Linked DNA regions of Homo sapiens: region 1 is linked to region 2. Evidence: fine-mapped expression QTL. Tissue or cell type: whole blood. Region 2 holds a variant in brackets; the other region holds the start of a gene. All regions are shown on one strand. Distances are from middle to middle. Region 1 holds the start of LINC00221 (long intergenic non-protein coding RNA 221). Region 2 has its middle 42 kb from the start of LINC00221.

Region 1 (15,882 bases), 41 kb before region 2:
AAGAAAATCTTGAACTTCCTTGGCCAAAGTTTCTCTCCCTAGCACTAGAGCATTATAGTCAAGTCCCTCAGTGAGACATCAGTCATCACCTTATGATTTGGTGGCTGGAAGGCCCATACATTTAGAGATTTTCCCCCAGAGCTCACCTCTTCCTATTACATGCACGCATGACAAAGCATTGAAAGTGATGACTGTATCTTACCCACTCCAGTCATCGACAGATTAAGCTATCATTTTCCTACATCTTTTCAATAGCCTCTAATGACATTAAAACAGGGAATGGTATTTACTGGAAGAAACATCAGGGTAGGATATTGCTCTTGAACGGCTTTGAAGGGAATCTTACCAGGTAATTTTAACCACAACACAGCAGTGAATATGCACAATGTCAATACTAGGGTTCATATTTATGAACTGTAAAACAAAAATAAAATCCTAAGTGCCCCAACTGACTAAATAGTCCATCTGTTCATCTAAGGGACTCCAGAAAAGCCTAAAAACTGAGATCCCAGCCATGACAAGATCAGACGCGCCTCTTACACTCACTCCCCTTTGCGGTTTAGACACAACAATGACCAACACTAATGTTAAAATAGAGATCAAAAGAATGACAGAACAGAATCTCTGTGGCAATAAGATGTCAAATTATAAACAAGACCTAAAGCCATGTCAGGCAAGGGTTCTGCCACTCACTCCCACACTTAAAAGGTAAACTGTCTTCTAACTGCCAATAGGTTATTCGTTTTCTCTAGCGGCTCAGTAAGCACCGGCACTGAGACAAGCACTATGAAGACAATTGCAGCCCATCCCCTGATGAACTGACCCCTGTTCCACAAGCCATAACCCCAGCTTTGATTGAACACTAGAGTGATATCAGGACCTTTCTCCTGATCAGAGACCACTCACCATGGCCTGGCTCTGGCCGTTTACAGAGGCTGCACCCTGAGTGCCTTTGTGTTTCTGCTTCTGCTATTGGCACATAGGGCCTGACTGTAATGAATTTAAATGCTAAGTCTCCACTGGTAAGTGAACAGGGGTCATACGTTACAGACATGTTTGTTCAGTATGCATGTGTGAGGACCACCTCCATGAACATCAGTAGCCCCTCCTGTAACCTGTTGATTATGTCTGTTTAGCCAAACCCTTCAGCATAAAGCTTCTGCCCAACCCCTTCTTCCTGGGAGTGCCTTTCTCTCGTCTTTACCAAAAGCTATGCTTTCCAGCATATGGGATGGCTGTAAACCTTGATAAAAATAAACTCTCACTTTCCTAAATTGTAGATTGTGTTTTTTTTTATTTAACACAACTGAAGATTAAATTCAGAAGTACATCTAATTATAAGGCTACTTTAGTGAAGAACGACAAACCGAGGATTTTCACATATACTGTAAGGGCCTGTGATATTTTGAAGCAGGAAGCTGACCTGAGACCTTCAGAATTAACTGATAACTGTGGATAATGAAAAGGCCCCACTCAGGACATTGATTCAGCACCCCTGCCTGTCTCATTCATTCTTCTCTTTCTTTTTATTATGTGCTTACAGTAATAAAATTTTTATTTTCTTTAGACCTGTTTGCTTTTCACACATAGTGGACTCTTCTCTCTCTTTTTCACTCATTTTCTTAAGCTGCTAGGGAGAATAAAGCGTCAGGTCCTATTTTTGGTGCCTCGTTGCTGACGAATTAAGGTTTATTCTTCCTCCTCCTTATCCCCTGCATGTGGTAAATCTAGTAAGAAATCACAGAAGCTCCCTTATCTGATGCCCCTGTGAGGTTTAAATCACACAATCTCCTTCTCCTGAGTAGAAACGCACCCCCAACCCCACCACCAAATCATTATAAAGCCCTGAGCCAGCCTCCTTTCCTGTCTACTGAGGAAATTCCAGTTTGAAATTTCTTGAGAGGCCTGTGCTGCTCTCAGCAGACACCTCAAAAATAGAGTTAATAAATGTTTTCATATTCACCTGGAGTGTGAGTGTGGAACCATCAGACTCGAAATCCACACTAACCATTGGTGGGGTCTCTCTTCCTTTGCCCAGTATCACCTACAATTGGAACTGTGGGCTTGGAGTCCTGACAATGACCACCACGGGGGCTTTCTTCTCTTGCACTGGATGCTAACTCCCTCTGCCCCAATGCCCAGCATGCACTTTATCCTGCCTGCTTGCTCACTGGCCCTTGGAGTTCTGTTGAGCTGGGCTGCCATGCTGAGTTAAACACCGCACCTTTTATAGATTTAGCTGATTAACTTCAGAAGCATTGACACCTTATTGACATTCAGAAACAGGAGTAAATGACTGTAGGTGACTCTGCCTTTGGTGCATATGAGAAAGTTTTTCTCTTGTTACGACAAATGTTTCTTCTTCAGACTTCACAGGAAAAAAAGGATAAGGAATCCAGAGATGTGCCACAAAGGAAACTGTTTTATGGAGAGGAAGCCACAGGGCTGACAGGAAACCAGACCTTAACACCCCTCTGCACCTGCCCTGGGGCTGGCTCTTGTGCTCAGTGGGTCCTGAGCGCCCCCAGGTGGTCCAGTGCCCACTTCAGGGAGGCTTGTTTCTAGGCTCACACTGACTTTTTTTCTAATTGTTTTCACAAAAATGGAGACAGAGTAAACGGTGAATCCATGCATCTCAGAGAACACAGAACAATAGCATAACACCCCTCGACACACACACACACATTTAGGTGAATCTTATTAAAACTGCTGAAAACCAAAGACAAATAGAAATACATGCAGACAAGTGGAGATGAGTTGAGGGGGCATTCCTTCTAAAAGAACAGGAAAGATGATGACAGCATTCTTCTGGTTAAAACCTTATAAGCAAGAGGAAAATTGATGGTGTCTGTAAAGTGTTGGAAGAAAAGCCAACCCATTATTTTGTAACCCATGGATGTTCGCTAAAAAGTGAAAAAAAAAAAAAAAAAAGACTCTACCAGCTGCACCTCATACTGCACACCTGCAAACACAGAGAAATCCTGGTCAGCAACTGCCACACATATCCACTGTTTCTCTAATATCCACTCACAAACAATATCTGTAGTTCTTCATGAATCACCTCTTAAAATAGTAACAAGGAAAGCCCAGCTCAGCCCAAACAACATGGTGAGTCCTCTGTGTTAAGTTCTGATCACCAAGTGAAAACACCTGGGAATCCTGGCACTTGAGCTCCTCTCCCAGAGCTGCAGGGTCAAGGCTGGGCTGGTTTTCATCAGCAGAGGGAGGGAACTATTTGCATGTCTCCTACTATATAGAAGTCTCTTGGGCAGGATGTCTGAGGACAGGGCAAGGCACAGAGCAGATGAAGTTTTCTAGTGGGTGGTGGGGCTTGAAGACAATGATAATATTTGGAAAAAATGTAATTTCTTAGTAAAAGATTGTGCTGTGGTAAACATTTAGCATACATTATCTTAACACACGAAAATACATTGTTAGAGGCAGATGCCCATTGGTCCTCCATTTACAGATGTGAATGTAAACCCAGAAGCATGAGGGAGCTATGAGATGTGTCCTGGAGCTCACATGTGACAAGAATGGGCTCCAGGATCGGGACCTGTGCTCCTCTCCACCGGATCCCACAGCTCCCTTAGCCAACTTTATCCCAGAGTTACGCATACCTGGTGTGGTTTGAAGAAACCCTTCTTGTAATAAAAACATTAAAAAAAACTGCTGCATTTTAGAATTACCAAAAAATAGAGATAGAGCTAAGGGTTATTCATTGTACATTCAGAAATATCTGACTTTTTATGTGATTTATCCATCTCCCTTACACCGTCCCTAAGAAATTTATACAGGTATTTATTTGTAATAGCTTGAATAATATAAAATTCTAATTAACACACAAAATGTACAATTTGGAAATTATTGATGTAACCATCACCATTATTAAGATAGAAAACAAATCAATTACCCTCAACATTTTCTCTTATTCTCTTGCAACGCCTTCCTCCCTCTTTTCTCTCACCTTTTCTCCATTCAACTCCCGACCTTCATGTCACTTCAGTTTCTATTCTGTAGAATGTATAAAAGTGTCATCATACAGGATGTAGTTTTTTTTTTTTGGCTTATTTTACTTATATGTACTCGTGAATTTAGTGCGTTTATGCGTGTATCAAACGTTCATTAATTGTAATGAACAACAGTATTCCAATGATTGATTTTTTTTTTTGTTTTTTTGAGACGAAGTCTCGCTCTGTCGCCCAGGCTGAGTGCAGTGGCGCAATCTCGGCGATTCTCCTGCCTCAGCCTCCTGAGTAGCTGGGATTACAGGCGCGCACAACCACGCCCGGCTAATTTTTGTATTTTTAGTAGAGACGGAGTTTCACTATGTTGGTCAGGCTGTTCTCAAACTCCTGACCTCATCATCCACCCGCCTCGGCCTCTCAAAGTGCTGGGATTACAGGCGTGAGCCACCGTGCCCGGCTGAATTTGTTAAATTCGGTGTTTAATCTGACATCCTTCTGGATTTGCTCACATTGGAACGTAAAAGAAAATAATTTCCAAGACTTACGTGTAGCCAAAACAAAACCAAAAATTTCCCGTCTCTAAGCTACACCTACCACTGGATTTTTAACTGAGGAAAGATGAGCCTGAGAGAAATCACAAAAGCAGCCAATTCAAGGAAAAGCCATTTATCGTTCTCAGCTGAACTTAAGACCACAGTTACCACGAAGGCAGCTTCTCCACCTCCGGAGCTCAAGCGATCCGCCCGCCTCGGCCTCCCAAAGTGCTGGGATTCCAGGCCTGAGCCCGGCGCCCGGTCAGCGAAGGCAACGTCTAAAAAAACTTCTCACCTCCTGTCACCATTTCAGTGACAAATTCCCGAGTTTTCAGAGGACATGCCGAATCCAGCACAAAACACTGACTCTGAGGAGCTCCCGACGCCGCTGGCGCCTCAGCTGGCAGCAGCTGCTCCAAGTTCGAACCCGCGGGCGGTGGCGGAAGGGCCTTCTCGCGGGCGTCGGGCAGCAGCTGCAGCCCTGGGCTCGGCCGCGGCGGCTCCGCGTCCTTCCCGGAGGCGCCGGCGCGAGGTCCTCACACCCAGGCGGCTCAGTGGAGGCGCAGCAGCCCAAGGAGCGCGGCCCCCAGCGCCCGCGCCCATCCTGGAGAACTGCATCTGCGCAGGCCCAGAGCGTCCTCCTGGAGCAGGCGAGCCAGGATGGCGCCTCCTCGCTCCCAGCAGGCGCCCCCACGCGGCCCGTGCGGAGCCCAGCGACCAGAGCCGCGCGAGCCTGTGGGGAGCCTGTGGGGAGCCTGTGGAGGCCTGGGCTCCACCGCCTTCCCCACAGCCAGCAGCAGCTTGTGCCGCCCGCCTTCCCCTGGCCAGGTCTTCCTGCAGCTGGCGCCGGAGGCTGCGGAGGGAGGGCCCAAGGGTTCTTTTCAGAAGACTGGCTTTTTATGAATTTTAACACAATATGTACAAGCTGCGTTCGTTTAATAACGCTGCTTCCGTCATACACTGGCAACTTAACACCTGAAAAGATTAGATGTTATAAATAGGACTTGTTCATCCTTTATACACAGGATATCCATAGATAAATAAAACAAACACACAGACAGAAGAGATGATCATTAATCTCTCCTCCCGGTGCGCACAGAGGCCTGGAAGTCTGCACTTTCTCCTCCTCTCTCCTCCCCTGAACCAGAGCACAAACGCAATGTGTGTTGATCAAGCAGGGATTTGGCCATCCTCCCCACCCCCCACCAACATCAAAATAAAATAAAACACTGCATATGAATTTTAACAAAAAGATATTTACAAAATTTATTATTTTACCACCTGTAATTTTAACATACATCAGGCACTTCAGAACATCTAGAAAGACTAGATATTTCAAAAGAATACTTAGAATTTCCAATGATGTATACAATAGCGAGGAATAAAACGCACACAAGAAAACAATGACAATGATATGAAAATGTCTTCTAAATATGAGCAGCCTGGCATGGAACCCTCTTCCCTTCCTGCCCAGGTCTCCCCTCCATGTCCTCTCACCCACTGAACGAACGTGGACGTGTGGTTACTGTGTCCCTTCCAGGGGTGGTCTAATAACACCATTTCAAAATGTCATTTCCAGAAGACACCCCTTTGCTATGATTTTTTTAAAAAGCACATGGTAACTTACGGCCAGGCACGGTGGCTCACACCTGTAATCCCAGCACTTTGAGAGGCCAAGGTGGGTGGCTCACCTGAGGTCAGGAGTTCAAGACCAGCCTGGCCAACGTGGCAAAACCCCATCTCTACTAAAAACTACAAAAATTAGCCAGGCGTGGTGGTGCACACTTGTAATCCAAGCTACTCGGGAGGCTGAGGCAGCACAATTGTTGAAACTCAGGAAGCAGAGGTTGCAGTGAGCCAAGATCCTGCCACTGCACTCCAGCCTGGGCGACAGAGTGAGACTCCGTCTCAAAAACAAAAAACAAAAAAACGAAAAAAAACGGAAAACAAAAGACAAGCACATGGTAACTTACAAGACATGTAATTTTCTGACTCTGTCATACATTTGGGAACCTCCTTATATCTAGGCGGATTAGATGCAGCAAATGTTTTCTTTTAAAAGGTCAGGGAAAGGTCGAGCGGAGCTTTTTCATGTGTTACGCACAGGCCTTCTAGAAAGGGCTGGTAAAGTGTGGTGGGCATGTCCAGTGGGACAAACTTGGAAGGTTCTTCTCTGTTTCTCCCCATCCATGTCAAGGTCTTGTAGAAGAACGATCACCATCCGGTGGCCGCTACCCGTTCCCCACATCGTCTTCCAGGACTCTACTAACATTTCTTGCCCTAAGGCCTTTGAACCTTGCCAGGACTGGCAGGGTCCCTTCCAACATGGACAGGAGTCATCCCAGGATTCGGAGCTTCGGGGCTGCATGGCCTGAAGAGAAAGCGGATCTAAGTCCTAGACCCCGCTTCCTGGCGACCCCACGCGTCCCCGGAACTCCCACGTCCCAGCTGCCCCCTCGCATCCCTGGACCGCCCACAACCCGCCAGCCCCCGCGCGTCCCGGACCACCTGCATCTCAGCTGCCCCCGCGCCTCTCCAGACCGCCCACGTCCCAGCTGCCCCCTGGCATCTCCGATCGCCGACGTCCCGCCATCCCCCGCGCGTCCCCGGACCGCCCACGTCCCATCAGCCCCGCGCCTCCCGGACCGCCCACTTCCCGACAGCCCCCGCGCATCTCTGTGGCAGCTGCTCCGTGCTTCCCGCCCCGCCGCGCCCGCCCACCCAACGGCGCTGTGTCCCGCCGGTAGCTCAGCGGGGACTTCCTTTATGTGGTACAGGGTTGGGCCTGGAGACCCGGATGCCGGCGAGGTCCTGGCTGGGAGAGGCCGCCGCTGCCTTCAGGTTTCCGAGGTGGGTAGAGAGGTTCCCGCTGCTTTGAGGTCAAGGCTCCTCGGTGGCAGCCACAGCAAAGGCTCCAGTGTCCGCCGCAGGGCAGAGGCCGGGCCTGTCTGGGGACCCCCGACTCATCTGAGGCTCAGGGCGGAGGGTCCAGTGAACTGACCTTGCCCCGCTTCTCACCACGCGCCCAGTGTCACTGTATTCAGCCACCACTGCACAAAGGCGGCACAGCTCTGTGCCCTGAGAAGCCCCTCATTCCCTCAGTGACTCCACAGGGAACACCGGGTGGGCCCCTGGATTCACAGCCCTGTAGCACGCTGCCCAAGGGGCCCCCTTGCTCTCCCACCACCCAGAACACCGAGCCCGTTGTCAAGGCTGAACCATCCGCGGGCAGCTGGGACCAGGGAACATGGTGAGGGGCTCACGGCACCTGGCGTGCAGATCCCAGTAGCTGGATGCGGTTCTGCTAATCACTAACAGGCTTGCAGGCTTCCCCAGGAATCCACCCATAAACTTCACAGAACACCGTGTCTGTGAACCACCCAGTATGTGCATTCAGTTTCTAACCTCACTCTGGTCCGGAATCTGCCACCTGCAGGATCCAATTAACAAGAGAGAGATCTGGTACAAAGATTATTGTATTAACCATAATGGTAAAGGGGAAGTGACCGCATTCCCATCCCAAGCAACCACTTGAATTTTGAAGGAAAGGCAGGGGTTTAAAAAAGGAAAAGTTGGTAAGAAAGGCATGCAAGATTTGGGCTGAGAACCAGGTCTGTGCGTCTTGTTCTGGCGGCTCTCTGGCATCCCAGTCCACCTAGATCTTGGGCTGGCATCATCTGGGCAATGCCTGGGTTGTTAACTAGCAACATTGAAGTCACCTCTGGAATTCTGCATCAGGGTCTCCCGACTTTGTCTATCTGTCTCAAATTAGCTTCCGGAACTTCCAAAAAGGCACATAGTTCGATGCAAACATAAAGTTAGATTAATGTGAAGGGAATATTTATGGTGAAAGGGAGAAAGGTGGAGTCTATTTCAAGGCGTAAGAAAATTGATTCTGCTGTTTGCCTCAAGATTATATCTTTACACCCAAGAGAGACAGAAAAGTTTAACCTCTCTTCTGCCACCATGTATGACTGCCTTGCTTCCCCTTTTTCTTCTGCCATGATTATAAGTTTCCTGAGGCGTCCCAAGCCATGCAGAACTGTTTGGTGTGGAGATTACTGAAGAAGGGTTTTACTTACTACTTGACAGAATTCCCCTTGGTGAAGAGGAAATGTCAGAGATCTTTAATTCATGACGATGTTGGATTATTGGCAGTTGGCTCACTAAGGATCCCATGTCCAAGAGCAGGATTCTCCTTCCAAAGTGTGGGTGTGGACTTGAGGAGCAGCCTTTGAAAGATGGGGCCCCTAGAATTTATAGAACTTCCTTTGATTCCTTGGAGGTTTGCAGTCTCCAGGTTGTCTGTCATCCAGGACTTTGACTGTTTGTGTGAAAGAGTGCTTCCTTTTGGGTGAAGAATTCTGTATGAATATCCTAGGGCTGCCAAAATGAAATACTACAAACTGGGTGGCTTAAAAATGACAGGACTGTATTCTCTCACAGTTCTAGAGACTAGAAGTCCAAAATCAAGTGTGAGCTGGGCTGCACTCCCTCTGAGACTCAGGAGAATTCTTCCTTGCCCTTTCCTCACTTGTGGAGGTGACTGGTAATCCCGGACATGCATTGGTTTACTGCTGCACCACTCTGATCTTTGCCTCTGCTGTCATATGGCACACTGTATGTCTCTGTCTCTGTGTCCAAATTTCCTTGTACTTAGAAAGACACCCATCTTCCCACATTGAGGGCCTGCCCTGCTCAAGTAAGACCTCATCTTCACTAATAACATCTCCAGCTACCATATTTCCAAATAAGGACGTGTTCTGAAGTGCTGGTTGTCAGGACTTTGACATATCATTTGGGTACACAGTTTAATACATGACGAACCCCGTTACAGAGCTACCATGTCTAGTGTCTTACACATTTTGTTTGGAGGGGGAGGGTAAAAATAACAATGGACTCCTGTGTGTTCTCTGACGATAGCAATACCAATAGCTACCATGTAATGCCTATTAGTTGTTAGGTACTAAATATTAACTAATTTCATTCTTACAACAACCCTACTTTACATATGAGAAAACTGGGGTACAGGAAGTAACTGGCCCATTGTCCTCCAGTTAGCAGTGGCAGAGACGGTATACAAAGCCAGACTTCCCAGCTCCAGAGGCCGCATACTTAATACCACCCTGCCTTCTGGACAGTCAGGACAAGCAATTATGCCTGTGGTAAACATACTGTGCTGACAAGTAAGGTTACACTTGAAATGTGGCTTACAATGCAAGGTATAGAGATTACAGGCAATTCATGTGTTCTGGTTATTTGTTGCTATTAAGTCTGAATTAAAATGTAAGTGTGAAATTTCAGGTTTCAGGGAGTATAAAAAATAATATTAAAACCTCAAATACTAAGTTTAAAATGCATTTTGAAATTAAGCTGCCTGTATATCATTCCCCACTGTCAAATTCCATTTCGTTTCTATGGAAAACATGTGTCATAGTCATTCTGGCTACTTCTTTAGAAAGGGCATAGGTTGTATGTATTGGAAGGGAATCCATTAAACTGGAGTTGGAAATATTCTGGAGTCTCCGGAATTACAGTAGGTGTTTGTTGGAGCATTATGGTGCAAGGACCTAGGAGTTTTTGAGAAGGTCAGTATTACATTCTCACTTAAAGTGCAAGATAGCAATAAAATCCATAGCAATTGAAGATAGCAATGAACAGAATACCAGCTCTACTATATATGAAACTCTTCCATGTGTTAGGAAGTCAACTAAACCATGCTGTCATGGGGTTCTGAGAGAGGGCATCCATCTCTAGCAGAAATATGGGTATCTAATGCTTGCATAGCTTGAGTTATATTGTGGGACTAATCTTGTATATATATGCAACATTCAGTGTTCATTAATACACAAGTGTTACCTTTGGCTGTAGTTGCAATACCTAGGGTCATATAGCTTCATAGTGTCACTTGTCAAATCTGTGAGGTTTCTTCAGTAAGAATGATGATGGCATGGTAGGTGTTGTTAAAGGGACTGGTGGTTTGCTTAGCCAGGGCCTCTACTTGCAATTCTAAATCTATGACTGCCACCTGGGGGGAAGAGCTGGCTAGTGGGCAGAACAACTAGGATGTCTGTTTATGTCAGTAGTGTCTGTCTTTCACACTTTTCCAGTTGACATAAAGAGAATGCACTTTGGACAGTTACATCCTGGGATATAAGGTCATATCCAGTTGCTTCTTTTAGTCCAGTTGTAAGGAAAGTAGGGCCAGCCATGAGTGCCACAGGCTGTAGCTAACCCCAGAGGGAAGAACAGATTCCACTCTGCAGGCTGGCATTGCCTTGTCATCCCAGCCACATATTAAGGGCTCAGTTACATTGCTAAGGAGGCAACAATTCCATATCATGAGTGACAGTGTAGAGTATGCTGTGGTGTTTCTTCACACATAGCAGTGCTTGACCAATTACTTGGATTCGCACCACTGTCAGCCATCCTACCTCACTGGATATGGCATAGCCTATAGTGGGAGTGATATTAATGAAGTGTCTTCTGTTTTTATAATAGATGGAAAAGATGGCTTCTCCAATGGATGGAAAATCATAAATTCTTACGTTGGGAGCTTGTATTATGCCAGGGCAGGCCTATAGTGGAAGAAATGGGCAAACTCTTTACAGAACCAACTATGTTTTCTTTTGCAGGGAAGCCACCATCTTCCACCCATTCAGCAAAAAAGATTAGTTTTAATAAGGAGAAATAATGTACTTATAACTATAGAACTCATTAAGAATTTTATATTAACAGAAGGGTATTACCTATCTGTCTTCTTGTCTCCTCTTTATCAGCAACTTCAGGTTTTCCTTAGGCTTATGTGACCAGGTAGTCTGTTATCTGGGGTCAAATTGAGGTGGGACAGGTTTTTTCCAACAGCGATGCACCCATGGCTTTACATTGGATAACTTAACTGAACAAAGGTTAATCAGTAGCACATCATGGGGTCTGTTCCACCTTTCAGTCAGCTGCTGATCTTGTTTTTGACTTTTACAAGACTGTAGTGGCATCTTGTCTCTTGGATGGAAGGGGTGAAGAGGCTCACTGTGGAATAAACAGGCCTGGAAATAGCAAGCTGATGTGCAGTTAGCAAGGTCTGCACCAATCTGCACATATGGTTTAACTCTGGGCTCTTTTACCAGCTCTAAAGGTGCTGTTACTGGCAAGAGGTCTGGAAGGGCCTCCTATATATAATTTCAAAGAGACTTTTCCCAAGCCCACTTCAGGGCACCGTTCTGCCCCAGAACAAGGCAATAAGAAAAAATCTATCCCAACGCAGGTCAATTTCCTGCCTGAGTTTGGCTATTGTCTTCTTCAAGGTGTTATCTTTTATTTCTTTACTGCTGACTGTGGTCTCCATGATGACTGTGGTTTCCATTCGATTTGCAGTGCTTGACTTACCTTTTGAGTAAACTCTGAAATAAAAGAAAGATCGTTGTCACTGTGTATAGTGCATGGGAGTCCAAACCTGGCAACGATTTCCTTGAATTATGCCTTAGCCAGTCATGTGGCTCTTTGGGACTTGGTGAGATATGCTTCTACCCATCTTGAAACAATATCTAGAACAATCAGGAGGAATTTATAGTTGCCACTGGCCACAGGCATGTGAGTGAATCCACTTGCCAATCTTCCAAGAGTCACAGTTCTCTGTGTTGTACCTCTTCGTTGCAAAGATTTTGTTCAGTCTCAAAGATATTTTTGGCACACAAAACACACTCGTATGTGACTTTCTGAACAGTTTTCTGACCATTCTGACACATGGTCATACAAAGTCTGCAAGGGAATCTCATTTGGAGTGTGTGCCCTCATGTAAATGTTTTAAAATTGTAGACCAGGGCCTCGGAGAGTAAGAATAATCCATAAGCATTAGTTTTTCAGAATAAATCTGGATCTGTTTTACCAAATCCCCAGTCGCAGGCATGCTTCTTGTCTATTTAGTATAATGGAGTTTGAACTATGGAAACTCCAGATGTGGAATCAAAGCTCATAGCAGGTGTGCATCCTGCACTGCTCACTTCTCAGCCTTTTCTGCAGTCTGATTTCCTTTAGGTGCCAATGAGTCATCTTTTGGGTGCTCAGGGCAATGCATAATGGAGGATGAGAAGGATGAGAACACACCTCTAGTAGTTTAACACCATTTCTATTGGGTGTTTAATGTCCTTATTTCCTGATGAGACAAGGCCTCTTTCTTTCCAGATGGCCCCATGAGCATGCACCACCATGAAGGTGTACTTAGTATAGGTGTCAATGTTTACTCAACTTGGTGAGGGTGATTAGCTCAGGTTTCGGACCAGAGGTACTGGCAGAAAGGGCACAGGCTTCTATTATCCAGTCAATAGTTATGATCGCACAACTGGCTCAGCATTTTTCCTCCTCCATGAAACAGCTCCCATCAGTTTAAATTTCCCAATCTGGAGCATTTATTGGCTGGGCTTCCAGGTCTGGGCTGCTGAAGTTGACTGCATCAAAAAATTTCAAACAGTCATGCACTAAATCAAAATCAAGTGCTGTAGCTGGGAGCAGAAATTTAAAATTACCTTTATTTTTCCTCTATTGCCTCCCCAACATGAATCCATCAGAAGATACATCATTCATTATTTCAAAATATATTCTACATTTATATATCCAAAGAAATGTTACTGTGGAAATATTTCATCAGATCTTCATCATGAGACTCTGTGAGGGCAGAGACTTGGCCTCACCTCCCATTAGCTCCACTCCCACACTGGAGAGCTTGCAGTCCTGAGCCTGCAGAAGCTGAGCTGCATGGCCAGCTTGGCTTGAGTGAAGGAGTGGATGTGTGTTCCCCTCCACATGGGGTATGTGAGCCTGAGGGTCTGGGAATTAATATATTCCTAAAAAAATACATCCTATCTTGTATATGGTGGGTTCAGGCTTTCTGTTTGTTGATCTCGATTCCCCTGAGTGATCCCCATCTTTCCAACTTTGTGGAAGACAAAAGTGAAATAACTATTGGGACAATTCTTCTCTACAGACAATGGAGACTCTGAGAACATCCAGAAATATCCACAGGACTGGCGAGGCTGTGGGCTTTCAACCACCACGAGAGGCTGTTTGCATATGATTCTTCTAAAATTGACATCAGTGAAATGCCTTGAAGATAATAAAGTGTTGAAGAAATAAACAAAATCAGAATATATGGGATCAGTTAGAAAGCTCTTATTTAAGGTGAGTTTATGAAATGAGGATGATTGCACTTGTAAATTCTTAGAATTCTTAGAGTGATTATGTAGATTACAGTTATTCCAGTACCTGGCCCTTGGTAAGTTTTGCTTTCACACTTATGATCTTTTTCCTCCAAAATGAAAGGTACATCTGTTTCCATAGTTTAAAAATATGTCTGTGTCTGCCTGGCTTGTCAGAGGTTTACAAGGCATGGAGATTAAAAGCCCTTCCCTGGGGAGGAGCCCTGACCCCCACCTCCTGTGCCTGACCCAGTTCAGTGGTTCCTAAGTACACCCTGGTGACCTGATCCTTCCCCTTGTGGTCCCAAGAACCCCTGCAGGGCAGGTTTGTGTCTGAGTTCACTCTGGATTCGAGTCACAGTGCCTTGAGCACAGTAATACACGCCTGCCTCCCCAGCCATCACACTTCTCAGCTGTAAGTTTTCTTGTTTTTTACTATGTGTTTCTGGAGATGCTAGCTCTGCCCTGAAGGTTGGGGCTTAGTGTTTCCCTTAACCCATATCACACCAACACACTGAAGACCTTTTGATGGGAGATGGTGGATCCAGGAAACAGAATGTTCAGAAATTGAATGTGCATAGGCGGCATAGGTGAGGCTGAGCATGACCAAGGGGACCACTACTTCTTCCTCCCATTGCACAAGGTGGTCCTCACTGTGAACCCCTGAGAATAGAGAACATCTGTGAGTCACAGACACATTTGCCTCATCCCGTGTCTCCCCACGTATGAAATCATGAGTAACTCACCACAGAGGGCAGCCAGCAGGCAGAGAAGGAGTAGCGGAGGGGCCATGTATCTATGGATGTGGAGAGTGCTACTAGAGACCCCAGCTCAGAGCCAGCACACAGCATAACACTCACAGCCCTGCCTCTATTCGTTCTTGAACCCGGGACTTATTTGCATGGACAGAGCCCCAAGGGCATAGGGTGAAGGGGTAATGTGAGGGGGAGCTCACTGCCCCTGAGCTCTCCTCAGACAGGGTCATAGAATGGGGTCTTGTCTTGTAGAACAGTGGGGAATCTCTGGGTTCCAGGAAAATGAAAACTTAAATGTATCTCAGGACTCTGGAGCTCCCTTTAGGAGTCTCTGTTTCTGTCTTCTTGCTAAATATTCTCAGCAAGATCAGCTGAAATTCGTCATTAGAAGAGGGAGTTCTTAGTATTCTTTGGCTGGAAAGAAGGCTCTTCTCCCATGACCAACTAAATAAGCAACCAATATAATCTAATATACATTATCAATGTCACATGAGTCAACATAGACTGCTTTCTTTATTTTTTTTCTTTTAAGCATATTGTTCAACATTTGTTCTATTTTAAAATCTTCAAGAGACGTTCATATGAAAATATAGCTTAAATATGGCCTCATTGGTGCAGATGATAAAGCATGGAAACTTTGCTTTTTCAGAAACATGGAGGATATGAGAGCAAGCAATGAAGTAATGTTACAAAATGACATATTTGAGTAGTTCATACTGGTGGAATTTTCCTGGCACTCTCATGAGTTGAAACATAATCATTAAAGACTCTGGCACTTGAAACCGTGATGACAGCTGCATTTCTTGCAGTCAAGGGAACTCGGAGTGTTTTAGCTTATGGGTTCTGTGGAAGCCAGGCCACTTGTCTTCCTCGCTTCAGCCCCCTTCGCACAGGAGGTGACGAATCTCTTCCCTCACTGGAGTTCCTGGAGCCAGAGTATACAAAGAAGCCACACACAAAGCTCCTAAAGAGAGCTCCACAGGCCTGAGACATATTAAATTGTCATCTTCCTGGGACCAAGAGATTCCCTCCATTATGAAAATGTTGTACAGCCTTATTATGCAACACACTCTGTTTTGCTCTGTGTGAGTTCCACTCCCACTGTCACAGCTCTGTCAGCAGACCCTGAGGCCTGGGCATCAATTTCAAATCTTCATGGAGAGCCAATGCTGTGGGAAGGGTGTCCTTTAGTCTGTGATATTCACGAGTGAGGGACAGAGCTGGACATTTTAGTGAATCTCAGAGCTGCAGGGAAAGTACTGTCTTCAGCTACTCTTCTCTGCCTAGACTTGGGACTATTCTATAATTTCCTCACTGGATTAATAATCGGTACCTGTTGAATCCTGTGTCCACTGTTCAATATAACCCGGTAGGGTGGAACAATCGGAAAATCATCTGCTTTATGCCTGCATCCTCTCCTGGCTAAGATTTCAAT
Region 2 (15,882 bases):
AATAATATTTTGGATGTGGCAAAGCCTTGTGCTTATAAGACAGAGGGACACAGGTCAGACTCCCCATGGATTTGATATGTTTTATTGTTGTCTGTTTATTTACAGGTTGACATGATAATGTCCTTGCCAAAAACTACAGTCATGACAGTTCATAAAATTTGCTTTATTCCTGTTTTCTTTTTTTTTTTTTTTGAGATGGAGTCTCCCTCTGTTGCCCAGGCTGAAGTTCAGTGGTGTGATCTCGGCTCACTGCAAGCTCTGCCTCCCGGGCTCACGCTATTCTCCCGCCTCAGCCTCCTGAGTAGCTGGGACTACAGGTGCCCGCCACCATGCCTGGCTAATTTTTTGTATTTTTTAGTAGCGATGGGGTTTCACCGTGTTAGCCAGGATGGTTAACCTTGTGATCCTTACCTTGTGATCTGCCCACCTTTATTCCTGTTTTTCCACCTGTGACATTTGAACTTCTGTATCAAGTGAGCAATGTGCATACCTTACAGGAGCAATTACAAAATAACTCTCTAAGTCATCACTATTACACAAATGCTACCCTGTCCTTACTGACAAATGTCTCTGGAAAGATTTAAGTAAACATACATCATAAATTGCTTCCTTAAATTAAAAGTAGCATAAGGTTCAGAAACTCATGAACTCCCTTTGCCAAAGGTACCTCCACTAGAACTTACAACCCATGGTCTCCTTCCTCAAGGACACAGACATTCTCATCCTATGACTTGATTCATCAAAAGCCCATGTATTTCCCATTTTACCTTCAATATTATACTCCGATTCATCACATGCTGATACAGCAAAGTATTTTAGGGGATTGAAGTGCCATGTGGAAACATTCAACAGAATGTTAAAGATGCCTTCCCATTACATCTTCCTAAATAGCTTCTTTACTGCTGTCCACTTGGAAATTCTTTATTTTAGAAGAGACATCAGAGAAAAACAGCCTCAAATATTGTGAAAGGGGCTAATGACCATTAAGAACAAATGCAGCAGTGACTCCAGGATGTGAATCCATAGGTTTACGCAGTGAAAATGAGGTGGGTTACATAAGTCATTTTGAGAGGATTATCCTGTGCTCCTAGAATCAGGACTAAGGGTGGCATCACTGTAGGGTTAAACAGGGAGTTGCTGGGAAGATATCCTTGTAGAAGTGATTTTTGTAGGACTAAGGGTGGCATCACTGTAGGGTTAAACAGGGAGTTGCTGGGAAGATATCCTTGTAGAAGTGATTTTTGTAAGGTTGTGGTTTCTTCTATCCAAGGCTGTGGTTAAGCAGAATCCATTTACGGTAGTTCTTGTTTTCTGGAGTATATGCATGAGAAACTTCTTCATGGTCATTCCTAGTTCCATTTGTCAGGGTGTTAACACAAGTGTTTCCATTTTTATTCTGACAACTTTCACACCCTCTTTCTAATACTACTGGTGAGGAAGTTGAATCTGTGGTTGTTTGTACAGCACAGGATAAATTTCACATCCACATCCCATTTTGTCCACGCAAGCTCATCCCCTTCACTCCTGTTGTCCACATTCGTTCCCAGGTAGTCTCCACACAACACACTGGAGGGTGCTGAGCAATGGGAGAAGAGAAAGCCCCAACAGCCACTCCCATGTGGCTGCAGGAGCCACAGCCTGAGCCCCGCCTGAGCTGCAGGGAATGGGCTTGAGGCTTGGGGCTTTTGCAGCAAGAAACACCTCCCCATTTTACAGGGAGCAAGAGAAGTACGAGGAAAAGCAAGAACAACAACAAATAAAAAGAAATAGAATGGTTTAAGAGCAAAAGGGGACCCAGATCAGTGCTGATACTGATTTGCATACTTTAGTGTCAGGAGAAGGAGAAGGGTCAGACGTGAAACCTGTGAGGTTCTACATGACACTGACCCTGTCCCAGCCTCTCTATTGGCTGGTATCAAAATTCCTGAAGACTGATCTAGTCAGGGAATCTCACAGAGGTTTCTGTCCTGAGTCTGACTGGAGAAGATTCACCAGGCACCCCTGAGTTTCCTCAAGGCTGATCCTGGTGACCATGGTTGAGGACTTTTCATCTCTGTAAGCATCCATCTGCATTTTGTGCATGTAAGAATAGGTTCTCATATTAAAATAATCATTAAAAAACATGTAGAGATGACACTGGTAAGCACAGAATTCTGAACTTAGAGAGGTTCCCTAGAGAAATGGTAAAAAGACGAAGTCCCACACCCTGACAGGAAATCAGCCTCTGTGTGCACCTGCCTCTTGGGCTGACTCTGATCAGTGGCTCCTGAGCGCCCCCTGCAGCTGGTTTCCTCCAGCGTTCCTGCAGGGAAGTTTGTATCTGGGCTCACATTGACTTCCCCTCACTGTGTCTCTTGCACAATAATACACAGCCATGTCCTCAGCTATCAGGCTGTTCATATGAAGATACAAGGACTTCTTGGCGTTGTCTCTGGAGATGGTGAATCGGCCCATCACGGAGTCTGCATAGTATGTATCACCACCAGTACCAATAGCTGATACCCACTCCAGACCCTTCCCTGGAGCCCGGCGAACCCAGTGCAGAGCATAGCTACTGAAGGCGAATCCAGAGGCTGCACAGGAGGGTCGCAGGGACCCCCCAGGCTGTACCAAGCCTCCCCCAGACTCCACCAGCTGATCCTCACACTGGACACCTGCAAACACAGAGACACCAAGGTCAGAAATTGCCAAACATATCCACTGTTTCTCTCACTCATGTAACTCACACTCAATCTCTCTAGTTCTCCATGAATCACATTTTAATATAGCAACAAGGAAAACCCAGCTTAGCACAAACTCCCTGGTGAGTCCTGTGTGTTCAGTCCTGATCACTGAATGCAAACACTTGGGAATCCCAAGGCTGGGGCTCCTCTCCCAGAGCAGCAGGGTCAGGGGTGGGCTGGTTTTCATCCAAAAATTACGGAGACAACTAGGGGTCAGGCAGATAAGTTTTTGGTGTATCTGACATTTAATGTATTTATTTGTTTCTTCCTATCATCCCTTTTTTGTATAAAATGTCGGCTGTTTACTTGTAATAAATTTTATGAGTTTTAACTGACAGATGATAAAATTCACATATTTAACATGTGCAATAGTAAACTTTGAAAAAATAATCTCTATTTTCAATGAGGTAACAAGTCAACTCCCCTCAGCATTCCTCTTGATCTTTTATATTATTTGTTTTTTCCCCTTCCCTTTTTCTACCATTTCTTTATAAACTACTGATGTTTTCATATTTCTTTAGACTAGTATTTATTTGGTAGAATTTATAAGAATGAAATAATATAGTATATTCGCTTATGTATTTGGCTTATTTTTCTCAATAGAAATACTGAGAATTAAACCATTTATGTTATATGTGTTTATTTTTTTATAAAAATTGGTAGCATTTCGGCAAACAAATGTAGCGTAATTTGTTTTTCTATTAAGTTGCTAATTGATATTTGAATTTTTTATTACATTGGGTCTTACTAACAAATCTGCTACTCAGTTTGGTAATGTACAAAGATGATCAATTATACATAAATTATATAAATATATTTATTTTTGCAACAACAATAACAGATAAACAAGATAATGTGTTATTTGGCAGATTTCCTTTAGTATTTCAGATAATTGAAGTTATGAGATAGAAAACATACTTATAAACCAAAGAGTATCTGAGACTAATCTCAATAGATTTAGGAAGTTCATTTTTCCAGGACTAAGGACATGCCTGTGACACAGCCTCAGGGAGTCCTGATGATACGTGCCCAGTGTGGTGGGACACAGCTTGGTTTTACACAATTTAGGGAGACATGAGACATTAATTAATATATGTAAGGTATATTTATTTAGTTCAAAAAGGCAGGACAAATTGAAGTTGGGGGGAGAGCTACCAGATCATAGGTAGGTATGAGAGAAATGGTTGCATTATTTGAGTTTCTGATTAGCCTTTAACTGAATGCACAGTTTACAGGAATAGTCACATAGGCCTTAGTCTGGCTTAGTGAAACAATAGAGCAAAGGGAGCAATCAGATATGCATTTGACTTACGTGAGCAGAGAAATGACTCTCTGCTTGGTCTACAATGTCCTTGGTCAACAAGGATTTTCTGTGCGGTCAAATTTTGAAGGAGATATGTAGCTTGTAAACACCTTAACAGCTATCATTTTAGGGAAAGAATGGAAGGTGGGTTTGCCCCAAACAGTTTTCAGCTTGGCTTTTCCCTTTGGCTTAGTGATATGAGGGTCCCAAAGATTTATTTTCCTTTCAGGAAAATGGAAATTTTGGGAGAAATGAGTTCTTGTAGAGAGAAACAAAGCCATAGTGTTAGCTAAACTGAGGCAGAAGTTGCCATGTGAAATACAGCCTATTACATGTATTGGATTGCTTAAATTCTAGGGTGGTAAACATGTTGCCGTGTGAAATTCTCAGGAACCATATGCTGAAGGGCACTGATAAAGTGAATTAAATATGGCCTGAGGAGGACTCCGTACTTCTATGTTTGAGTCCTTGTGGACAAACTGTAACCTACCTGAATAGGTGGACGAGATTGAAAACCTAACTCAGGAGTATGTACCTGAGCACCTCACCAACAGCTGAGCGTTGGCCAATTTCAGCAGCCATACCTCAACCACTCATACACTCTTGAGTGTGCAAACTGTGTTTAAATAAGACAAACATCAGCCTGTAACCAATCCAGCTGTTTCTGTACCTCACTTCTGATTTCTGTACATCATTTAAAAAAATGTATAAATCTTCTTCAACCACATGGCTGCACTGAATTCTCTTTCAATCCGCTGTGATTCCGGGGGCTGCCCAATTCATGAATCATCCATTGCTCAATTAAACTCCTTTAAATTTAATTTGGTTTGAGTTTTTTTTTATCAGCATTCTTATCCAATTGAATTCCTTTGTTCTAGAATGGGTGCAGTCAGAAAAATCTTATTTTCCCAAAGTGTCTGTCTGAGAGAGGAGAGCCCATACTTCTGAAATGCATTCAGACCCACCTCCCTCATCTTCACTACAGAACTAAGGAATCACCCTGCAGGGGCCAGCCACTGAACCCATTATTCCAGATGCACTGGTGGAGCCCCAGAGGAAATGGGATAAAAACCGAGGTTCTCACCAAAGTTCCATTGAAATGCACCTCCTCTCTGTCGTGGAATCAAATCCTTAATCTGCAGGGCATGGCAGCAGATCTAGAAGGTGATGGTAACAGTGGAGAATATTGGAGCTGTGGGAGGGAACAACTGGGAAAAACAGGAGAAAATATACATATTTAACTCTGTGGACTTCAATCTATTTACATGTTAATTAGGTGGAATATTTCATAGCTAAAGACCTGATCTAGAATGAGAAATAGTAGAGAGATGACACATGGAGAATGCAAGAGTGGGAAGCTGAAGTTCAAGTTCTGATATTTGTTTACTGATACTTGTCTCCTGGCATGTCCAGAACTTTATGAGTACAGAACTCCTCTAATAGAGAAACAAACTCTCACAGGACATGGTCCTCAAAACGATCTCACCTTCAAATGGCACATTAACAATCTCAAACTTTTTTGGTTTTACCCTTTGCAAGTTGAACTCCTGGTATGGTGTGTCTGTCAATATTTGCACACATTTAATTGATATAAATATATTTCTTCTACATCTTCCAACTATTAAGATATATGAAAAGTCTAAAATTTTCTCCTTTCAAATTGGGTCCTCATCACCTCATTGGGTTAGGTAAATGCTTCAAGTATGATGGGGTATGTAAAGACGCATTGTAGTTTTTGCTAAATTTTTTATGTTTTATTTTATTTTTATTTTCAAAAATAAAGATGAAGCCTCACTATTTTTCACAGACTGATCTCAAACTCCTGGGTTCAATAAATCTTCCCACCTCAGCCTCTCAAATTTCTGGGATTATAGGTGTAAGCCACTGTGCCTGGACATTAATTACTTGTTTTAACTTTTTAATTGCATTTTTGTTTTGAAATAAGTGTAATTCAGGTGCTGGAAAAATTTTCTCCTCAGACTCCTCTGCAGCAGCTCCAGGGCTGACATCTGTGTGGAGTGGGTTCTGGGCCTG[T/C]CCTGCAGCTCTGCCCTCACCCTGCAGGGGAGGATGCTGTTTGGGCTCACAGAGCATATTCTCCCAATGTCGCTCTCCAAGAAGAAAGGGGCAGTTCCCTGGTTCACAATCCTCTCTCAGCAGCATCTAATGCTTTTGAAATTGTCTCTTGAAACAGTGATTTGTCATTACTATACCCAGTAAACTGCAGGGAGAGCCCAAGCATAGATTCTATGAAACCACCAGAGAGTCTGTTCCCTGGGACTGTCAGATGCAGTGACACAGTCAAGATCCATGGTGAGTCCAGAAACTTTCAGAGAACTCATAGGAGCTTCTTATTTCTTTTAGAATTCTCTATTCAAAGTCACGCCAAATAGCATCTCCACAGAGAGAACTACATGGCTCAAAGCTCGCAAAAATTAAAACACACATGTACACACACACACACACACACACACAGACGCACAGTGTACTATGGCTGATTTTTACAATAATTGGCTCCTGATTTTGGATTTTGCCTAGTGTAACCAAAGGTTTCTGAGAGAGCTCTCAATCAAATTAAAATTAATTTTTCCAAAGTTATGGCATGCTTGGAAGAAAAGTAATCACAGAAACAATGCGTGGTTAGTGCCATTCCCAAAAGACATTTTTTAGGGCTTTCAATATATAAAGGGGAAAAGCTGGCTAGAGGGGAAAGAGGAATTGCATGAAAACTTACATGTAGTAATGAAAAAGAAGCACATAGGGAAATAGAATATCAAGTGGTTCTCCTGCACTAAGTATTTCAAAGATGAACAAATTGTAGCTATCTGTGAAGATATCTAACATTTTATCTGTCTGTGGCTATTTTCTTAGGAATGAAAGGAAAATCAGTTTCTTGCATGGATCATCCTTTAGTTTTTTCCCCCCTCATGACGTAATGAATTGACATCATAAGTTTTTATTTTCATTTCATATCTTCCCAACTTTTTCCTTTCCAAAATATTTCAGAGGAAGCATTTTACCACAAAATAAGTTTCTGGGCTTCTGTTTTTGTTTTTGTTTTTTTCTTTCATGGGTAGGACGGATTATTTCTAGATAAATAGGTCCCAAGTTGTTATTATAGTTCATTGTTACCTATATTTCAAATGTTGTGAAGTTTCACATCCATTAATAAGAAAATAGTGGGAGAAAAAAGAGAAGTAAAACATATAAATAAAGGAGGAAATAACAAACAACAAAAAGGGGAAACAATCCTGGAAAACTGATATAGGCCTTGGAACTCTGAAGGCTGAACATGAATAAGGTAAACGACAAATATCTGAGACAGGTCTCAGTCAATTTAGGAAGTTTACTAATGTGGTTTGTCTGTGTCGCCATCCAAATCTAACCTTGAATTCTAGTCCTGCAGTTCCCATGTGTCATGGGAAGGACCCAATGAGAGATAATTGAATCACAGGGGCAGGTCTTTCCCATGCTGTTCTCATGATAGTAAATACTTCTCATTAGATCTGATGGTTCTGTAAAGAGGAGTTGCCCTGAGCAAGCTCTCTCTAGTCTGCCACCGTGTAAGATGTCGCTTGCTTTTCTGACAAGATTGTGAAGTGTCCCCAGCCATGTGAAACTGTGAGTCAATTAAACCTCTTTCCTTTATCAATTACCCGGTCTTTGTTATGTTTTATTAGCAGCAGGAGAACAGACTAATACGTTTATCTTGCCAAAGATAACTCACCCATGACCATCCTCAGGAAGTCCTGAGACATGTGCCCAAGGCGATTGAAGTACAGCTTGCTTTTATACATTTTAGAGAGACATGAGACATCAATCAATATATGTAAAATGTACTTTGGATTTTTCCTGTAAGGCAGGACGAATCAAAAGCACGGACTGCAGTTTAGAAGTAGATAAGAGACAATAGGTTGCGTTCTTTTGAGTACTTTATTAGCCTACCACTGAATGCACAATTTAGTCTGACTCAGTGGATCTTCGTTTTTACATAAATGATAGTGAAGAGGAAGCAATCAGCTGTGTATTGGTCTCAGGTTAGCCTCAGAGGAATCACTTTAAACAGAAGGGGAGGCAGATTTGCCCAAAGCACTTTCCAGTATGGCAGCCTCGTTGTCTGGAATACCACCCGAACTTCTTTGTCTCACGGCCGTGAATATCAAGGTCGCAGACATGCTAAGGGTGAGGTTAGAGCACAAGTTTAATAGGTAAAATAAAAAAAAAGCTGTCTGTCACAGAGAGGGGTCCCAAATGGGTTATCGTGCTGCAGTAAAATGTAAGGATTTTTATAAATGTGCTCGTGGGGAGACGGTGTCTTATCAGCATAGGGTGCAAAAACAGTTAGGACAATGTGTGCCATCTGCATAGAGCAAAGTCTCTGGCAACCCCACCTCATGCTTTCATTGGGCAGGCGGGCACTTTGCTTGATCTCCTCCACACTGCTTATCTTCTTCCACCGTGCATGTGCTAAGAAAGGCCAGAAGGGTTTTCTTGCCTGGTCCCAGGTACTTCCTCACAGGTGCCGGCGTCGCAAACCCCGTGCAAGCTTCCAGCTTTTCTATCTTAGTGTACTCCCAGAAAAGAAAAGGAATGTGCTTATTAAGGCTCACTGTTTTTACTGGGACCCATCCTATATATGTGAGGTTTGGTGATTACACCCAGAAACACCCTCTCTGTGGCAGAGTTGCTTATCTATATTTCACAGCCTGATTATTTAGTCTGCTTTTTGTTAGAAGTGATTTCTTTGAACTGTGTGTAATTAGAGAAGAAGTTATTTCTGAGCTGATTTTTGTTAGAAGAAAAGTTATTTTGCCAGAGACTCTCTCATCCCAACTATCTACCTAAATAATTTCTTTCTATCTCCTGTAACACCACATTGACTCTTCTCTTTAGCTTAGTAATTTTGGGGTCTCAAGATTTATTTTCCCTTCACAGTAGGAGGGTATAAAAGGAATTTTTGTATATAATTAAGTTGCTGGTATTAGACAATTTTCATGCTGCTATAAGGACATACCTGATGCTGGATAATTTATTTAAAAAAAAGGTTTAATTGTCTCACAGATCTACATGGCTGGGGAGGCCACAAGAAACTTACAGTCATGATGGAAAGGGCAGCAAACACGTACCTCTTCACATGGCTGCAGGAGAGAGAAGTGTCATGTGAAGAGGGAGGCCCTTTATATAACCATCAGGTCTTGTGAGAACTCACTCACTAATAGGATAAAAGCATGGAGAAAACACGTCCCGTGATTCAATTATCTTCACCTCCTTCCACCCTTGACATGTGGAAATTATTACTATACAAACTGAGATTTTGGTGGGAACACAGAGACAAACCATATCATTGATTTTATTTTATTTTAGAGTTTAAGTTGACTAGCTGTAAGAAAGCACAGTTTACCTTCTGGAGATTTCAAATAGGAAAAAAATATTTAAAAAGAAAATCACTGAAAATGTTATTTTGGAGACTTGTGGAAAGAAATATTTTAAAATTGAGTCCAAATTGTAGAAAATATTGTAAATTGAAAAACAAGTGGACAAGGTTAGAACCTAATAACAGATGCACTATAGTTTATTTTGAAAGAATATTTCTCCCTATAATTCCCCAATTTTATTGGAGACAAAATCATAATAGGACTAATTTATTTGTAAAATAAATTTTAGGCTTATTATACTTGGCCTGATTTTTTTGTATAAGATGCAGCAAAAATAATCACTTAACATATTAGCTCTCTTTTTATTGTTTTTGTTTTTGTTGTTGTTTGTTGTACATAGGCTGTTTTATTCATACATTGCTTTTGCTATTTTTTATAAGGAATCTAAGGGTAAGATCTTTAAAAGCCTCAAGCCCAGCCAATATTTTATCTGTGCCATCAGATAGCTATATGGATTGGTTTACTTTTTATTTTTTCAAGTATCCAAGAAAACTTGGGTTTCCTGGGCCTGTCAGAAAGCAAAATTATTTACTTACTACAGCTCAGGGCCCTGTTAAAAAAAAAAAAAAAAGGTAAAATGCCAGTTTTCCAAAGGGGCTTATATCAGCTGTACAGCTCTTCATTTTATAAAGTAAATCAGAAAATATGTCATTCAAGTTAAAGCCTTGGTAAAGTGACCATTGTCTCTAATTGTGCTCTGTTATGGAAGAAAGCAGATTTTTATCGAACCTATGCAAATAACTATTTTGATATAAGAATACCTACAGTTTCCAAATTTTGGAGAAATTATGTAGAGAAGAAGAAATTATATTTTCAATTTTTCTCAATAGAGTATAGTTAAAATTGTTAAAAACTGTGAATAGCTTAAAAGACAAAGTTTTCTTGATTCTGAACAATAAAACATAAGTAAATAGCAAATGCTTTAAAGAATAAGTTATAAAAATTATTTCAGTCTCCTTTTCATTCAGTTCATGCAATTACATCCTGTCCTGCTTGATATTAGATTAACAATCATCATAAATGCTTCAGGTCTCATGAGACTCATGGAAGTTTTTCTCTCTATACCAAAGGCACAATTTATAAAATTGTCAAAATTGTATATTGTATATTTAAGAGTACTACTCAAAGTTCTATAGATTATTATAAGCCACCTGATAAAGAATCAAAGTAAAACAACAATTGTGAATGACCGACCTTTTAGAATACCCCTGGTTAAAGACAGAATTGAGGAGAAAATTTGGTTATTTCTGTGATAAACAAAAATTTTAAATTATAATCATAAGTACTACTGATACTAAGACATATAAAAATCACTTGAATCTAATAGAATTTTGGAACATATACTCTTTACATAAGTATATTCAAATTATATAGTCCACATTTATATAAATATAGTCCAAAGTTAATAACCATTGCAAATTTGACATTACTTCCTGTATAATTTAACTGTACCAAATAAGCTAAATGTGTTTCTTTTCAGGGTGTTCAAATGACTGAATTTAGAATTTTATTTTGTGAACTTTGTCAAATATCAAAAGTTTACAACACTTGATATTACAAAATAGGATTACAGATTATTGTAAAATAAGTTATTTATTTAGCCACATGAAAACTCAGTGATTTCTAAAAAAAAGAAAAAAAATATTTTTGAAAGAGTAGAATTGATTTTCTAAAATATAACCCCTTAGAAGAACAGCATGAGAAAAGTTAAAACTATCAATTCTGAAAAATAAATCTATTAAATTATAATTACTTTTACCATAAAAATAATTTGCATAGATCTTTTATACAGTTTTATCTGTTTTTTAAATTTAAATGTGGATTAATTCTTCAAGAAACCCTGGTCAATCTGGCACAGGGGCCCAGATGCTAGCCTTGCATTAATGTTTAATTTATAAAGAAACTCTGAACCGATTTCATCTCTCAAAATTAGCTTTTACAATCTTACAAAGCCACTTCTTCTGTAATAGTCCCTGGGGCTGGGGTGGTTAAGTAGTTTCAATTTCTGGGCTTGTGTCTTGAGAGTGTGATCAATTTTTCTTGTCATTTTCTTCCAGGTCTGTAGATGGGGCTTTAATTGCTGTCGGTGTTTAAGATTTAGCTGGACTTGGTGTCCTTTTTATTTTTTATTTTATTTATTTATTTTTTCTGAGATGGAGTCTCACTCTGTCACCCAGGCTGGAGTGCAGTAGTGCAATATCTGCTCACTGCAACGTCCACCTCCCCGAGTTCAAGCAATTCTCTCTGCCTCAGGCTCCCAAGTAGCTGGGATTACAGGCACCTGCCACCATGCCCAGCTAATTTTTGTATTTTTTAGTAAAGATGGGGTTTTGTCATGGTGGCCAGGCTGGTCTCTAACTTCTGACCTCAGGTGATTTGCCCACCTTAGCCTCCCAAAGTGTTGTGTGTCCTTTTTAGACCTAGGATTCAAAGCTCAGTAAAGTAGCAGCACAAGGACTTTAAAAGTTATACAGATAGTTACATGAATGTCATAACATTAATTTCTATTGTCTTAAACTCTCAGTATTACTAAGTAGTTGAAAAACTTAATAACACTTACATAGGAATTATTTCAATGAAATTTAAAATTTGTCTCATGCCAGTTACCAAATAGCAAAAATAAAGCCTTCTGCACTGTGACTGTTTTTTCCTATGGGGAACTCCATGTACATAACCTGCAAGTCAACTCTAATGAAAAAAGTATTTGAATTAATCAGACCTAGGAAGAATGTGTCTTTACAAGTGAAGATTTTGGTTTCATAGAAAAATTTAGACAGTTAAAGAAAAGCCAACGACACTGAATATTATATTGAAAGAAAACATTTTATTTAGAACTTTAAGATAGAGGATTTTAACATCAGGAAATAATAGCAGTCAGAAACTAACAACAGTTAGAAGTTAACTCAGAGGCTAACTGCTGTAAGTAAGAAACAATGTTAAAGGAGCTGATGAAAAAGTTGAGATCCTCTCAAGCCTTCTCAAATGGAAAAAAATAAAAATGGCAAGATGCAACAAAAGTTAAAATTTTGGGTTAAAAAATTATAATACCTTATAATTTTATTGAATAAATCAATACTTTAAGACAATTTTGTCATTCTAACCAATCTTCAGTGTGTTAGTATATTTTCATATGAAAGCCAGATCCCTATAAAGACTATAATAAATTCTTCCCTTTCAATTATAGTCAACTCGATAACATGAAGTTTTTTTAATAAGTTAGCTTTCTATAAACCTTATTTTGACTTACACGAACCATTTATGGCATACTTGAACATCTTGTTTTATTCTAAACATTATTCTTTCATAAATAGTCACTTTTATATATAAAAAGTTATCCTACAAAATTCCCTCTCATATAATTTTTTTTTATTTTAACCTTTCTTACCAAAAGTACTTCTCTATGTCTAGAACTTTCTTTAAACCTCTCTTATTAACTGGGTATGTTTATGACATTTTATAATTAACCTTTGAATTAAATAAATTATTTTTCTAAAAACAAATGTTTTCAAAAAATATTTTCTTATAATATGTATTTTTAAAAAGTTTTCCTTATAGTATATATATTTTAAACAATTAGTAATGCATAAACATTTATATAATATATATTATTTAATTAAACTTTAGATTTTTAAATTGTAGAACAAGTTTATTTAAATGGTTTATTTTATTTCATTTACCTAATTTATTTTTTAAATAGCTTACCTAGAATATTTATGAAAACTGTAATACTTGTCCATTAAAGTTTTTCACCTATTAACCATGTTTATAACCCATGAAATTTAGGTGTTTACCTAAGTAAAACCTTATGATTAAGTAGATGATTATTTTTCTAGTAGCTAAGTATTTACCTATTTTTTTTTATTAAAACAACAATACTGAACATCTTGTTAAATTACAAAGATCAATCTGGTTTTAACTAGGTTTTTAATTTTATAATTTTATAATCTTAAACAGCAGGTGTTTAAAAAAAGGGTTAGATGTAAACAGTGATTGTTATCTTAAAACCAGTAGAAAGGTCCTGTAAACTGGAAAACAAAATATTTTAAAGCAAAAAATGTATCTTCATCTTTCTTTATAAACTTCACCAAAAGCTTATTACATGCTCTTACTATTCTAATTCTTAGTAACTCTAATTCATAGTGAGAAAGCTAAGATTACTTAATTTAACATAGCAAGACTTTAAGATTTTAAATACTGACGATAATTATGAGACTAAATTTACAAAATTAATATTTGTAAAGCAATGTAAAATTTAAAGCTGACTATACAAACACAGATGTACTTTTTTGTTTACAAAGTGTTTCATTAAACAGACTTAACTTGATTGGTGGTCTTTGACATACAGCTTAATTAGATGACTGGTCTTGGATTGGAGGCATTTAAGAAAAAGGGCCAAGAAAACATGCAGTTTTTAGGGCATAAACTACAATTATTTATGGAAATGTGCAAAGAAATGAGTAGCCTTCTATAGTGATGATCATTTCCTGCTAACTGCCCTCAGCCACCCCTAACGTAGCTTTCAAAGCCACCCCTAACATTGGAGCTTTCATTCACTATTGCACACACGAGGAATGAATCCTCTCACAGTGCAGTGTAATTCTGGTAACATCCGAAACCAAAAACATTACATAATCCAAGAAAGCAGAGCTTTATACCTGAGAAGAATCTACCAATGTTTCTTGAAACCACAAAGGAAGGAGAAAAACTCCCAAGAGTTTAGTGGCAAGATCCAAAAGGAAAACACCCTTCCTGCCCCAACCCAGGGGCCTGATGTGGAGCTGCCTGCTAAGGGAGCGGTGGTGTCCTCAGTGGCCCCTGGTGTCCTGAGCATCCCCTGGTGTCCTGAGTGCCCCCTGGTGGTTGTGAGGGACCCCTGGTTTACTGAGCACACCCTAGTGTCCTGAGAGCCCCTTGCTGTCCTGAGCACCTCCTGGTGTTCTGAGCGCCCTCTGGTGTTCTGATCACTCTCTGAAGGTCCTGAGCGCCCCCGGAGGTCCTCAGCACGCTCTGATGTCCTGAGGGCCCCCTGGTGGTTCTGAGCGCTTCCTGGTGGTTCTGAGTGTTCCCTAGTGTCCTGAGCGCCCCCTGCAGTCCTGAGGGTCCGCTGGTGCTTCAGAGCACACCCTAGTGTTTGAGTCCCCTGGTTTCCTCAGTGCCCCCAGATGGTTCTGAGAGCTCCCTGGTGTCCTGAGCACCGCCTGGTGGTTCTGAGTACCCCCTAGTTTCCTGAGTCCCCCTGGTGTCCTGAGTGCCCCACGGTGGTTCTGAGCGCCCCTGGCGTCTTGAGTGAGTCATGGTGGTTCTGAGCACCCCCTGGTGTCCTGAGCACCTTCTGGTTTCCTGTGCACCCCCTGGTGGTTCTGAGAAGCATCTACCATGCAGGGAGGTTTGTGTCTCCCTGCAGGCAGGTTTGTGTCTGAGCTCACACAGATGTCCCCTCACCGTGTCCCTCACAGTAATAAACGGAATTTTCCTGAGCTCTCAGGTTAATCATCTTAAGAGAGAATCATCTGAAAAGCGTGTCTCTGAGGACTGTTAATCTTCTTTGTACTCAAGGAGAGTCCCACTGAGAACTTCCACTTGAATTACTGATGTTATCACCTACACCCACCCCTGTCATGAAGCCTGCTGGACCAAGCTTATGCTGTTTTCAGTGAAAGTGAATCCACAGGGTTTCCAGAAAAGTCTGAGAATTCTTGGTCTGTAGTATTTCTCTGAGAGACTCCAGTAATTAACTTCACAGGGGACCTCTGCAAGCACAGAAGCAACAGACTGAGAACAGCCCCCACGTGGAGCAGCCACAGTTCACTCAGTCTGTTTAACGGGGAACCTCAATATTGAGAGTGATGACAAGTGAAGCCCAGATCATCATAGACCCGATGGTGTGGACACTGAGGAAGGGCACAGATATTGGGTGGCTCCTCACCAGGACCTGCAGGAGAAGAGGGGAAGAGCTGCTTTTCATTAGCAGGGAGGGGCCTCATTTCCATGTCTTTCTCCTGGGGACATGTGTGTTCTGCTCAGCAGGGCTCATCCAATCTATATCTCTGGGTTGCAAGGAGGGCAGGGTCAAAGGATTCCTGGGACTGGATGTTCAGGGTTGATGTGTCCATTGCTCTTTCTTTTTCTTTCATGTGGACGCTGTTAGGGTATCTTTATAGTATCAATGTTTGTCAACAAATAAGTACAGTAAACAAATAAAAATAAACCTTGCCCAGAGGAAATGGACATCTGCCTGTAGGCTGTGCAATTCGAGCTGTAAACCACTGTCCTCTACAATAAAGCAAAGTCTTCAGTTAGAATTTTAAAAATGCAGATCTACAAATTGTCAGAGCTGGAGTCCACAATTACTTCTATCCTGAGCTTATTTTGCCACATAGCTGTTCAGTTTCAGATGTATGTGCTTGTCTGAAGAAAAAGTTAA

Evidence for each region.
Region 1: LINC00221 starts here. The variant in region 2 is fine-mapped to the expression of LINC00221 in whole blood (TOPMed, PIP above 0.99).

Annotation. Positions count from the first base shown.
Region 1 is chr14:106,475,287-106,491,168 of GRCh38, forward strand. LINC00221 (long intergenic non-protein coding RNA 221) reads left to right here and starts at 7,153. Exons shown (of 3, transcript NR_027457.2): 1 at 7,153-7,351; 2 at 13,482-13,675. It also overlaps IGH, the pseudogene IGHVIII-44 and the pseudogene IGHVIV-44-1.
Region 2 is chr14:106,516,229-106,532,110 of GRCh38, forward strand. It overlaps IGH, the pseudogene IGHV3-47 and the pseudogene IGHVIII-47-1. Among named protein-coding and RNA genes, the nearest start is that of LINC00221, 42 kb to the left of the region's middle. The variant T/C (reference allele first, on the strand shown) is at 6,061.